Regions from separate parts of the Homo sapiens genome. Here region 1 is linked to region 2. A link means that fine-mapping ties the variant in region 2 to the expression of a gene that starts in the linked region. Tissue or cell type: testis. Region 2 holds a variant in brackets; the other region holds the start of a gene. All regions are shown on one strand. Distances are between the middles of the regions.

Region 1 (5,393 bases), 25 kb before region 2:
TAATAAATCAATCACAAGTGAGATTTATTAAAAACAAATGGCTAAAATGATTTTTAGATTATTCATATTTTATAGTAACTGCCTATCCGACCATTAATGACTACACATGAAGTTGTTCTATATTTATTTTGTCCAGTAAATTTTCTTCTAGATAAATATATGGAAAGACAATGGCTCTCTTAGTTAAAATGATATTTGACATAATTTCAAAGCTATGACAATTTCCTTATATTTGAAACACTTTCTGCTGACGCAGCATTTCTTTAAAGCATAGTTTATTCCATGACATGAAGATGGAAAAACCTCCTGAGTATGAAGGACCAGGTACCCAAATGTCCTGAGAAAGCCTCCTTCCCTTTTTATACCTCAGAAGCCAAATATGTTATTTACTCTAAAGCGTGTTCTTACATCTTGCTCCATAGCTCATTTAATGACATCACCATTCATTCAATGTCCAAACTGCTCTCATTGGATACACGAGGCTCTAGGGTAGTTTGAAGATTCCCTTAAGACCGAAACAAACAAGTAAACACCTCTGACTATGTTTGGTCGTTTAGTCTATGGTGGATCTGTAGATCCATTTTTTTTAAACTGAAGTTTGGATGTTTTATTTATTTTAGAAATGTAAAAGATTTCTGTGTCTGTGAATGTGCAGTGTTGTATGGTAGAGGAAAACATAGGCCCTGAAGTAAGATAGATCTATAAGTGACTTTACTTCTTTTATAGATGTTGGAGGAACTTTGAAAAAAATAGGTTTTTGGATAAAAGTTGCTTAAAATTTCAGATCTCTCTTCCCATATGTAAATGTAAATATTTATATATATTTAAATATTTGTCATTAAGATACTTTATTAATTAATTAATTAATTTATTTATTTATTGAAGCAGGGTCTCATTCTGTTGCCCAGGCCAGAGTGCAGTGGCACGATATCAGCTCACTGAAACCTCTGCCTCCCAGGTTTGAGCGATCGATTCTCCTGCCTTGGCCTCCCTAGTAGCTGGGACTATAGGCGCATGCTACCATGCCCAGCTAATTTTTGTTGTTTTTAGTAGAGATGGGATTTCACCACGTTCGCCAGGCTGATCTCAAACTCCTGACCTCAGGTGATCCTCCCGCCTCGGCCTCCCAAAGTGCTGGGATTACGGGCGTGAGCCACCACGCCCAGCCATGAAGATACTTATTAACAATATATAAAATGATAGTATCTGTCATTTAGAGGTGTTCAATTATTTACATAAACATGTGAATAGAAAAGAATATAAATCTACATTCTTGATGACATAAATGATAATATAAAATGTTATATATCCCAGAAGGTTCAGAAAAAATAAGACTAGATTTGAAATAAAATTATCTAATAAAGAAATATAAATGGGATGTAAAATCATGTCAACTACTCACCCTTTGAAGGAGCAGGCTTATGAGAAGCTAGGAAAGAATTCTTATGGTTCTTAAATAATTATCTGCAGGAATCAAGGTGCTCAGTACTTCCTCTTGTCTCCTTTAGTCTATGCAGATACACTTGGTAAATAGTCCCATTTCCCCTTCATGTCTTCCTTTCTTCCCTTCATTGTAATAATGACCTGTAAGTACAAGAAGAATTACCGTCAGGTAAAAGCCTTTTTCATAGATCCTGCAATGAAAATTATAATTACTTTAAAGCAGTAAAATTGTAATGCTAGTAGGTAATACTCAGACATGTTCTTCTCAAACATTCTTTTAACTCTTCCGTGATATTTTCTGAAGCTCTGAAAGAATTTCCCCTTTTAAAGAATTGACGTATAAAATATATGCACTCTCCCACTAGAGATACGAGCTACTTTAGTCCCGTATTTTATTATTGCAGGGATAGATAAGTGGACAGATGCTGTCAAGCATTCAAATAATCGACCTATAAAGGGCTAGACATAGAAAGACATAATTTCCCTGACCTCTCCAACACGCAGTCTATTCTCACTCTGGAGGATGAAATGCAAAGACTCAACTCCAAGAATGAAGGTACACAATGTGTTTCAGGGGAGTGGACGCATAGCTATGGCCTCACAGTTGGCACTTACTCTATGCCCTGGTGATACTGAATTTGGATATGATACACAACGATATTCAGCTTCTGGAGGGCCGGGGAAGGGTCCATTGCAAAATTGTGCGGAGTTGACCCTTGGGTAAAAATCAGAATTTACATTTTGGTTTTAAATTTTATAAGGTACAGTACTGTTCTATTTGCTCTACATAAATAATTTCATTTAATCTACTCAACAGCTTAGTGTTTTGTGTATTATTATTCATCTCAGTTTATAGCTGTGGAATCTGAGCTTTACAAAGGCTAGATAACTCATCTGAAGGCAATGCTTAGCACTGCTTAGCAGCCCAATAGTGGTACCAGCTCAGCACCATGGTTTTATTTATACTTTGTCTCTGTAGACCTTGCTTTATTCCGGACTTGAGAAGGAGTTCTCCAAGCATTTGGAAGAAACTCCTTTTCCATTGAAGTTGTTTAAAGAACACTTACCTTTTGAGTAAGCCAGAAGCTTTTTTTGAAAATACATGGAATGTGATGTTTTTTATTTTATAATGCCTACTTGAGCTGCATACCCAAGGCTACCTGTCAATAATCAGTCACTTTTCACAGATTATTTTTACTACAATCTATGACAAAGATGATCACACTGACCTATTTAGCCTCTTAAAACTCTGCTTTGTACTTGATTATCTAAAACACTATTTATTTCACTTCAGCCCAATAAATACTTATTGAGTGCCTGTTATGTGCCAGGCACAGATGCCAAGATATAACCTGTGATTTAATGGGGTAACATACATCATGCATTGCTTTAGGAGTGTGTTCACTGGGCAAAGGGAACAAAGAGGCACTTGGCTCACCCTAGATCAAGAGGAGAGGCTCTCCAGATTTGCTGACCTAGAAGGATAAGTCTGAAAGTAGGAGGGTGGGGAGAGCCAGATGAACAAGGGAGGTGAAAACGTGATCTAGGGAGGCATCCGAGTGAGCAAAGGCACGAGTGAGCCTGGTACACTTCTGGGCAGGCAGAAGGAAGGCAGTTAGGCTGTTAGGAAGGCAGTTAGGCTGCAGTGAATTCTACAAAGAGGCTATGGGAAAGAAACCTGGAAAGGTAGGGAGGTATGGATATGGACAAGCTATGCCAAGGAGCAGGGCTTTGTCATGGAGAGTGACTAGGTGCTTTTACATAGGAAAGTCACCTGATAATATTAAAACCTGTGAAATATCACTCTGGTGGAAGTGTGAATGAATTTGAAAGGGGTGTAACACTGTTCTACTTTGTTTACTCCTCAGTACCCTTGGCTGTGTACATTTGAGTAAAGAGAGCACTATAAAATCAAAAACCAATGAAATGGTTTCCAGAACACAGAACTATTAAGCTTAAGAAAAGGACAGAAGGAACTGAAGAGAGAGGAACTGTTTTGGAGCATCACACTTCCACCTCAGAAGAAATAAGGAAGGAAGGAGGAGGGTGTTCCCACGGCTCTTCAACCAGGCCGGCTCTTCAGCCTACATCCCCATCTCATCAAGTAAAAGGGATTTTTCAACTGGACCAACCAGATGGTTTAACAGTGCACTCCCACACCATTCAACTACGCAAGGGAGATACACTTAACATATGCAGTCGTATAACACCTACTAACATTTTCAAACATTAAACCTTTAAAAAAGAGTTCTAAAGAAATAGAAGCTTGAAGTATCATCTCTCAAGTATATAGACACTACTTCATGGTGTGGTAATATATGCATATAGAAGCTAGTAAACACCTCCAGGAGATGCAAAAGGAATTAGAACTGCCACAAGGTGCAAGCAAAACCTTGAGGTAAGCCTGTTCTTTACTCAGTACATTTTTCCTCTTCGACATTGTAGGTATGTTATCTCCATCATCCGTATTTGTCTATTGCAGTCTCCATTGATGGTGAAGTATTTTCACTATTTGGCATGTCTTCTCTAGTACCTAGAGCAGTGCGTTGCATGCAGTAGCAGGTTTATAAACATTTGCGAGTAAAACATCCAACCTGATACTCAAGGTAAACTCCTGAACCAAACACCCAGAGTAATGTGAATGTTTTTCTATACTCTAGAGTTTATGGCTAGAAATTGCACGGAATGAACTGCATCCTAAACTGGGGTCGGGAAGGTGGGAAAATGAGTCCAGTGATGAAAGGAAGAAGCTGTGCAAGCTATGAAAAAACCTGGTGTGGGAAACTTTTTGTGTGATGTCTGTATATTTTTTTCTTATTTTTTAACAGCAGGTAGCTGTCTTCTCATATATAATTAATTTCCAAACCTCCATTTTTGATGTATGTCATAAAACTGGCATTTTAATTATTTATTTTCAATGTATTTTCTGTTCTGTTAATGAAGATTACAATGAAGAGGAGGGGGAAATCAATTTTTTTAAAAAAAGGAAAAATATAAAATTCAGACCTAAACCTATTTTTCTTCTTCCGATCTATTTACCCAGCTTCATCTTCATATTACCTGTAGCCCTGTGATGCAGGACAGCGCTGAATCAGTTCTCAAAGTCATCCAGTTCAGGAAGCTTTCTAGATACTCACACTTGCCCTCAAACATACCCCTTCTGCGCGCACACACACACACACACACACACACATCTTCCTTCTCTAAATGCCCCATGATACTGGATTTATCCTTTTATCACTCTTGTTTACGATGTGCTACTGTAATTGAGTATATCCTATGTATCAAGCTCTGTGTTACCTATTTTAAGGATTTAAAATGATTTAGTTGTTTGTACACAATTTGTGTAACATCCTTTCCTATGAGAGCAAAAAGACAAAATTTGCATCTGATTTTTAAAACATGATATACATACATGTTTCAGAGAGCATGTATCTAATTAAATATTTGATGAGTGCAGAAGAATGAGTGAGAGTATGAATGTCTGTAAAAGATTATTTGGTTATTACATTAAACCAGATAGTCTCTTGGTAAACTTTAAGTTACATTTATGCGGACAGAATTACAGATTCTCCACTGGCACACATGTTGCAGCATTTACTATCTTCTTTCATCTGATCAGATGTCAAAAGGAGATTTTTGAGCCATCATTTAGGTAATTGTTCATGAAGCCCAGACCAAAATATTGTGATAAATGTAGTTAAAATTATCTTTTTGTTAACTGCTATATTAGGAAAAAGTTGATACAAAATAAATTTTACATGTTTAAAATGTACCACTTAACAGGTTTTGGCATATGTTTACCCCTTAAAGCTGATACTGACTGCCCCATCCCAAAGCAGCCACTGATCTACTTCCTGGCCTTATCTATTAGCTTACATTTCCTAGAAGTTTGTGTAAATGTAATTATACAGTGTACCTTTTGTTGTTGTTGTTCGACTTATTTCATT
Region 2 (5,393 bases):
TGGATTACATCCTCTATAAAGCAGTCTGGGGTGAGTGAAAGAGGGGGGCGGAAATTAGTGATTTCATTTGATTTAATTGTTGAATCATACTTAAGAACTTAATAAGGCTTTGTTCTTTAGAAAAACCAGAAACTGTAACTCAATGTGATTTTTGTTAAGCTCTTGATGCTTTTCCATGAAAGATTATTTTGAATTCTTAAGGTGGTAGAATAGGAAATTATCACATAAAAATACATGAAAATAGACGTGTACAGACATTTTTGTCAGGACAAAAGGAAAACCCTCTGCTCAGATAATGGCAGTTTATCAAGAATCCTGACGAAATGCTTGGTTTCTCCCTTCAATGGGCCACCCACTGCTGTCCAGGTAGGAAATTTCCTGCCATGGACAATCTGGAAGTGTCTGAGAGACTGTCTATACTCAGCTCAGTGAGTGAAAAGAGAAAACCTGTGATGGGCAAATAGTCTGGATGATGATACCAAGATTAATTTGTTCCGTCCATCTGACTGGGTGGAGTGCATATGTGCTATGTTGTTGTAGACTCCAAACATCTAAATTGTTCAGACCAGACCAATCTGGATATTTGGTGAAAGGAAAGCTCATAGAAAAATTTTTCAGAGTTTTTACTTTGTGCAATTTTATAATTTTATATTATCTAAAGTTTTAGCTTGAAAATATGAAAGACAAGCATCCAATTGATGGAAGAAGAAAAGAGAGTTTTCCTTTTAGATGATTGTGTCTGAACTATTAGGCTTATTATGCTTCTAAGTGCTTTAGATATTTTCATGTGTTTACTTCTCACAATATGACAGCTGAGGAAATGGAGGAACTAGAGGTCAGTAATTAGCCCAGGGACACATCTCAGTTGCACAGGCAGTATTTGAACACAGCATTCCAGCCATGGTGATGATGTTTTTAACAGCTGCATTATATTTCCATTTCATGGTCAAATACCTTCATTGAATAATTTAAAATTTCATTTAATTAAGTAGGTCTGGCATTATTCAGATCCAAATTTAAACCAGTTCAGCAAGCCATCTCAAAATACAGTAATTGGGTATTAAGAAATTATCTAGGCATTCTCTAAATTTATTTACATATTCAACGAGCATTGAAAATTATGTATCAGATATTCTGCCCAATCAGAGGCTAACATCTGCCACAAGACAAATATGGTGCCTGCCCCCATGGAGCTCATATTCGAATGGAGAAAATGTCAACAAGTATCCCACGGAGTGAACACTTCAAAAGGAGAAGCACAGGTTGGTGTGATTAGAAATGGCAGGTGTTTATGAACGGGGTGCCAGTGCAGGGAGAAAAGGCCTGTATCGAAGGACACTGTTGATGCTGAGATTTGAAGGGTGGGCAGCAATTAAACAGTTGATGGTGTGGAGAGTGAGCCACACTCCAGGATAGGAAGACCAACGTGATAAGTGAGCAGAGCAAAGAGGGACCCTGGCTGTCCAGGAGGCAGGGCTCAGTTACTCACGGCCCCACCGTCAAGCTGAAGATTGGAGACTTCATTTGGTAGGCAATAGGAAGCCACTTAAGGCTTAAGCCTCTAAGGACCATGCCCCAAATACAGGTTTAAAAAGGTTTCTCTGGTTATGGTTTTAGGTGAGAAAATCGAATTTGGACACCGTTGAGGAGACTATTGCAGTCATCCAAGCTCAAGATGGTGGAGCTTCATCCTTGAGAATAACCAATGGGGATAGATTTAAGAGACACTTAGAGTCTGCAGCCAACAGGGCTGAATGAGCAGTAAGTAGGAGCACAGCTGGGTGATGTGGTGGAGGGAAAGAGAGGAGTCAGTAACAGCTCCCCTGTTTCTGGCCTTAACATGTAACTAGGTACCTGTCTGGACTTCTGTGTCTCAAAATATGAAGCAGCCCATACTACTACTTCCTTTGTTTCTGCATCTGATGGAATAATAGAAACGTTTTCAATTTTTGTCAGAATACCTTCATAACACACACATACAATTAAAATAGCCTTTACATTTTTTACATTCCTATATTTATATTTACACTTAACATTATTGAGAAAAGCCCACACTTGATGTACATTGTACCAATTGTACTGTTCTGCTTGCCCCATCAGGAAAGCAACTCTGGAAAAAGTGTGGTTGTTTGCAGTTTCCTGGTTATTTAAATTGACTGTAAAAGGTGATATGGTTCTTCAATATTATTGAATAGTGTTGCTGAGACTTTCTTGAATGTTACTGAACTTCTGTAATAACATCACTCAACAACTGAGATTATCCTATCCTAAATAATGGTTGATGTGATGTAAATGCCAGTCCATCAGTCATACAGACAAAACCCAAGATGATGTTTTGATTGTCATTGAGACAAAGTTATTCTTGCAATAATAAGAATGGCCAACGCTCATGGAGTGCCTTCTACCTTCCAGGCACCAACTGAGAGCTTCACACATATTAACTCACTCAATCCTGCTAGCAATACTCCCAAAGATGGTAATATTTTTGTCTTCACTTTGGGGATGAGCAAAGTGAAGACATAGAAATTTAGTATCCTGACCAAAGTCAAATGCTGGATAAGTGGTGGAGACAGAATTGAAAGCTGTTAGGCTGCCTGGAGTGAACGT[C/T]ATCAGAAAAATGCAAGACCTCTTTTTACGGAGAGTTATTCTTCTGCCCCAAAGATGGAAAGCTAAATTTCTGATTGTGTATGTGAATAAGCAAATTTTAAAATAATCACATTTAATGCACATACACTGTGTCTTTTCCCTAGGAGAGTTATGATTCAGAAGATCATCTAAAATTGAACAGCTGCCACTACTGGCAATAAGTCTACTGCCATTTGGTAGATAACCTTCTTATCACACAGAAAAATATCAGTACAGACAAATAGACCGCAAAGAAAATGAGACCATCAGCAAAGAAGATAAAGAAGTTTGTACAAAGCAACTTTTTATAAATGGATGGCTGTCAGGCAAAAATAAATTTCCTGTGGACAAGACCAAGAGCAAGGCAAGAGGAAAATAAACATGTTTAAACTATTGGAGAGTCCATAATTTAAATATAAACTCTTCTGTTGAGTGGTAGTGTGCACCGAATCAGTTCCAGGGATGGCAATAAATGTTACGCTGCATTTTAGGAAGTATGGGAGAGGAAGCTGGGGCAAGAGGAACTAATGCATGATTAATGCTAGATATTTGGAATTGCCTAGAGCAAAGGAGGTTGGGGGCTGCAGAAAACTAGATCTTTGAAGATTTAATAGATTCCTCATTCTATGTCAGTCAGCCCACTTAGATTTGTCACGTGTTAGCTCTGTTTTTCTTTACATTTAGTATTTTTAGTAATGGCTTTTACATTTTTAAAAATCAGGTTGAATTTAAGCTAATGGACAATAAAACTTCAGGGTTAGAGATACTGTTTTTATTCAGCAACTAGATGAGGAACTGCAATGAATGAGAATTTGGAAATTGATGTTTTTATAGTGACACAAGCTGCATCACTATGAGATGTTCTTAGAGAGGAAATATTTGAAATTTTTAATATTTGCATTTTAAATTGGAATTGAGAAATGGGCAAATGAAGACATAGCTCAATGGTCAAATTAAACATTACTTGTTATTCTAAATGCAAGATTCTAGTTAAATTAGAAGGGTGGAAAAGTGTTGTTAATTATTTTTTCTTCATAGGAATGTAAAATCAACTATAAAAAATTAATGCATGAGACCCAGGGATTAGCATTACAGCAAATTCAGTGATTTTTGCAATCCATGCCTTTACAAAGAATGTGTGATTACTTTGTCTAGACTTTGTAGCACACTATAATAAATAGAGACTGACAATATCAATATATTTCATAAATACATGACTGGAATTTACAGTATTTCTGACGATTAATATTTTCTCAACTACCCTAGGTAAAGCAATGTGTACATCTTATAAAGGCAAATCTGTTGATAATGCCATTTGCTAGCAGACAAAAAAATAGTAATGGCATTTATTTGTCTGAATATATTCATCTTCTCAAGTAAACCTGGGAAATCTGAACTGAAATCCATAGATAATTCATTAGCTTCAGTTCATGGGTTTGTGTTCTTGGAGTCTTCTCATACATATAATATCCTAGCACAGTTTTTGTAAGATTGCTTCATGGAATGATTTCTTTTTCCTGAAAGGGCTAAGCTCATATAAAATCAACTATGATGGGTTACTTGTAAAGCTATCGATTGACATGGAGCTGAAATGGCTTCTTTCTAAAAAAATTCTTCTAGAGATACACACGTTTTTGTAATGAAACCACTAACAGCAGATGGGAGTTCATTGATACTTGTGCCAAAAGGCTTCCATTTTTTCAGTTTCTTAGAGCTGTGGATACAGCAAAGGCAACTAAAAATATAATTTTGGAGAACAATTAGTCACTCTCAGGAAATCTATAAATATTCTGGGAAAGCAACATGGCATACACATTCTGCTCCACAAAAAAGATGACTACATTATATTATATTATGTCATGATTTGCAATGTTATGTGATGCATACATGCTTCACAATTCTTTTTTACTTGTATATTTAGAAGATTCTAAAAAAAGAAATAGTTCTTTTGGCTGCAAAATTTGCAGAGAATGTCTGAATGCACCCTCTTCCCACCTCCTGCCACTGCGTGGCTGCCTCTCTGCATAGTTCTTCCATCACTCTCCCTAAATGAATGAAAGCTTTTGCTTGCCTCATACCTGTGAAGTTCCTCCACAAATACACATTCCTATAAAAATAAACCAAAAAAAAAAAGAGCTAGAGAAGCTGAACATGTGGAGAGCGCTTGTTTTTCTATAAGACGATCTTGATTTCTCTTAGGGATTTTGGGATATTGGCCAGCTCTGAAGTTCTTGGATGTGGTAAAATCATGGACACACCTACGCATGAGTGTGGGTATAGTCAGGAATTGGTTGACCCATCTCAGAAGTCAGCATTGGTCTAGGTACTCACAAATAGGAACTATAATATAAAATGTTGATATATAAATATTATTAATAGGTGGCATTGTAGCACACTGCCAATATTTCTTTAAAGGATAGCAATTTCTTGATATTAGTTATTTAGAAGTATAGTGGTTAAAATAACTTATATTCTGTGTTTATCTTTTCAAATCATGCTTATATATACTATTGTTTTCATCATTAGGAATTAGCTTTCAGAATACCCTTTCCAGACACCATGAATGATTTAACAAATGTTTATGCTTTGAGTTTCAGATATACCCGGCTTTTAAAATTGAAAACCATAGCCTAGAATTCTGATTGAATATGCATAACAAGATGGGAGCATAAGAAGAAAATTTTTATTGATCTTTAAAATATAAACCAAATGACTCTCACTACTGATTTTAGACTTGTGAATTAAAACAGGGGTCCATGAACTATGCG

The links. PIP is the estimated chance that this variant, and not a neighbour inherited with it, causes the effect.
Region 1: LINC00343 starts here. The variant in region 2 is the best candidate, but not a certain one, in a credible set for the expression of LINC00343 in testis (GTEx, PIP 0.78).

Annotation. Positions count from the first base shown.
Region 1 is chr13:105,703,789-105,709,181 of GRCh38, forward strand. It overlaps LINC00343 (long intergenic non-protein coding RNA 343), which reads left to right and starts at 3,042. Exons shown (of 4, transcript NR_046391.2): 1 at 3,042-3,129; 2 at 3,312-3,841; 3 at 3,926-4,049. LOC105370345 (a long non-coding RNA gene) reads right to left here and starts at 3,068. Exons shown (of 7, transcript XR_931698.2): 1 at 2,882-3,068; 2 at 1,403-1,584.
Region 2 is chr13:105,728,698-105,734,090 of GRCh38, forward strand. The region is part of intron 3 of LINC00343 (long intergenic non-protein coding RNA 343); the gene reads left to right. Among named protein-coding and RNA genes, the nearest start is that of LINC00343, 25 kb to the left of the region's middle. The variant C/T (reference allele first, on the strand shown) is at 2,608.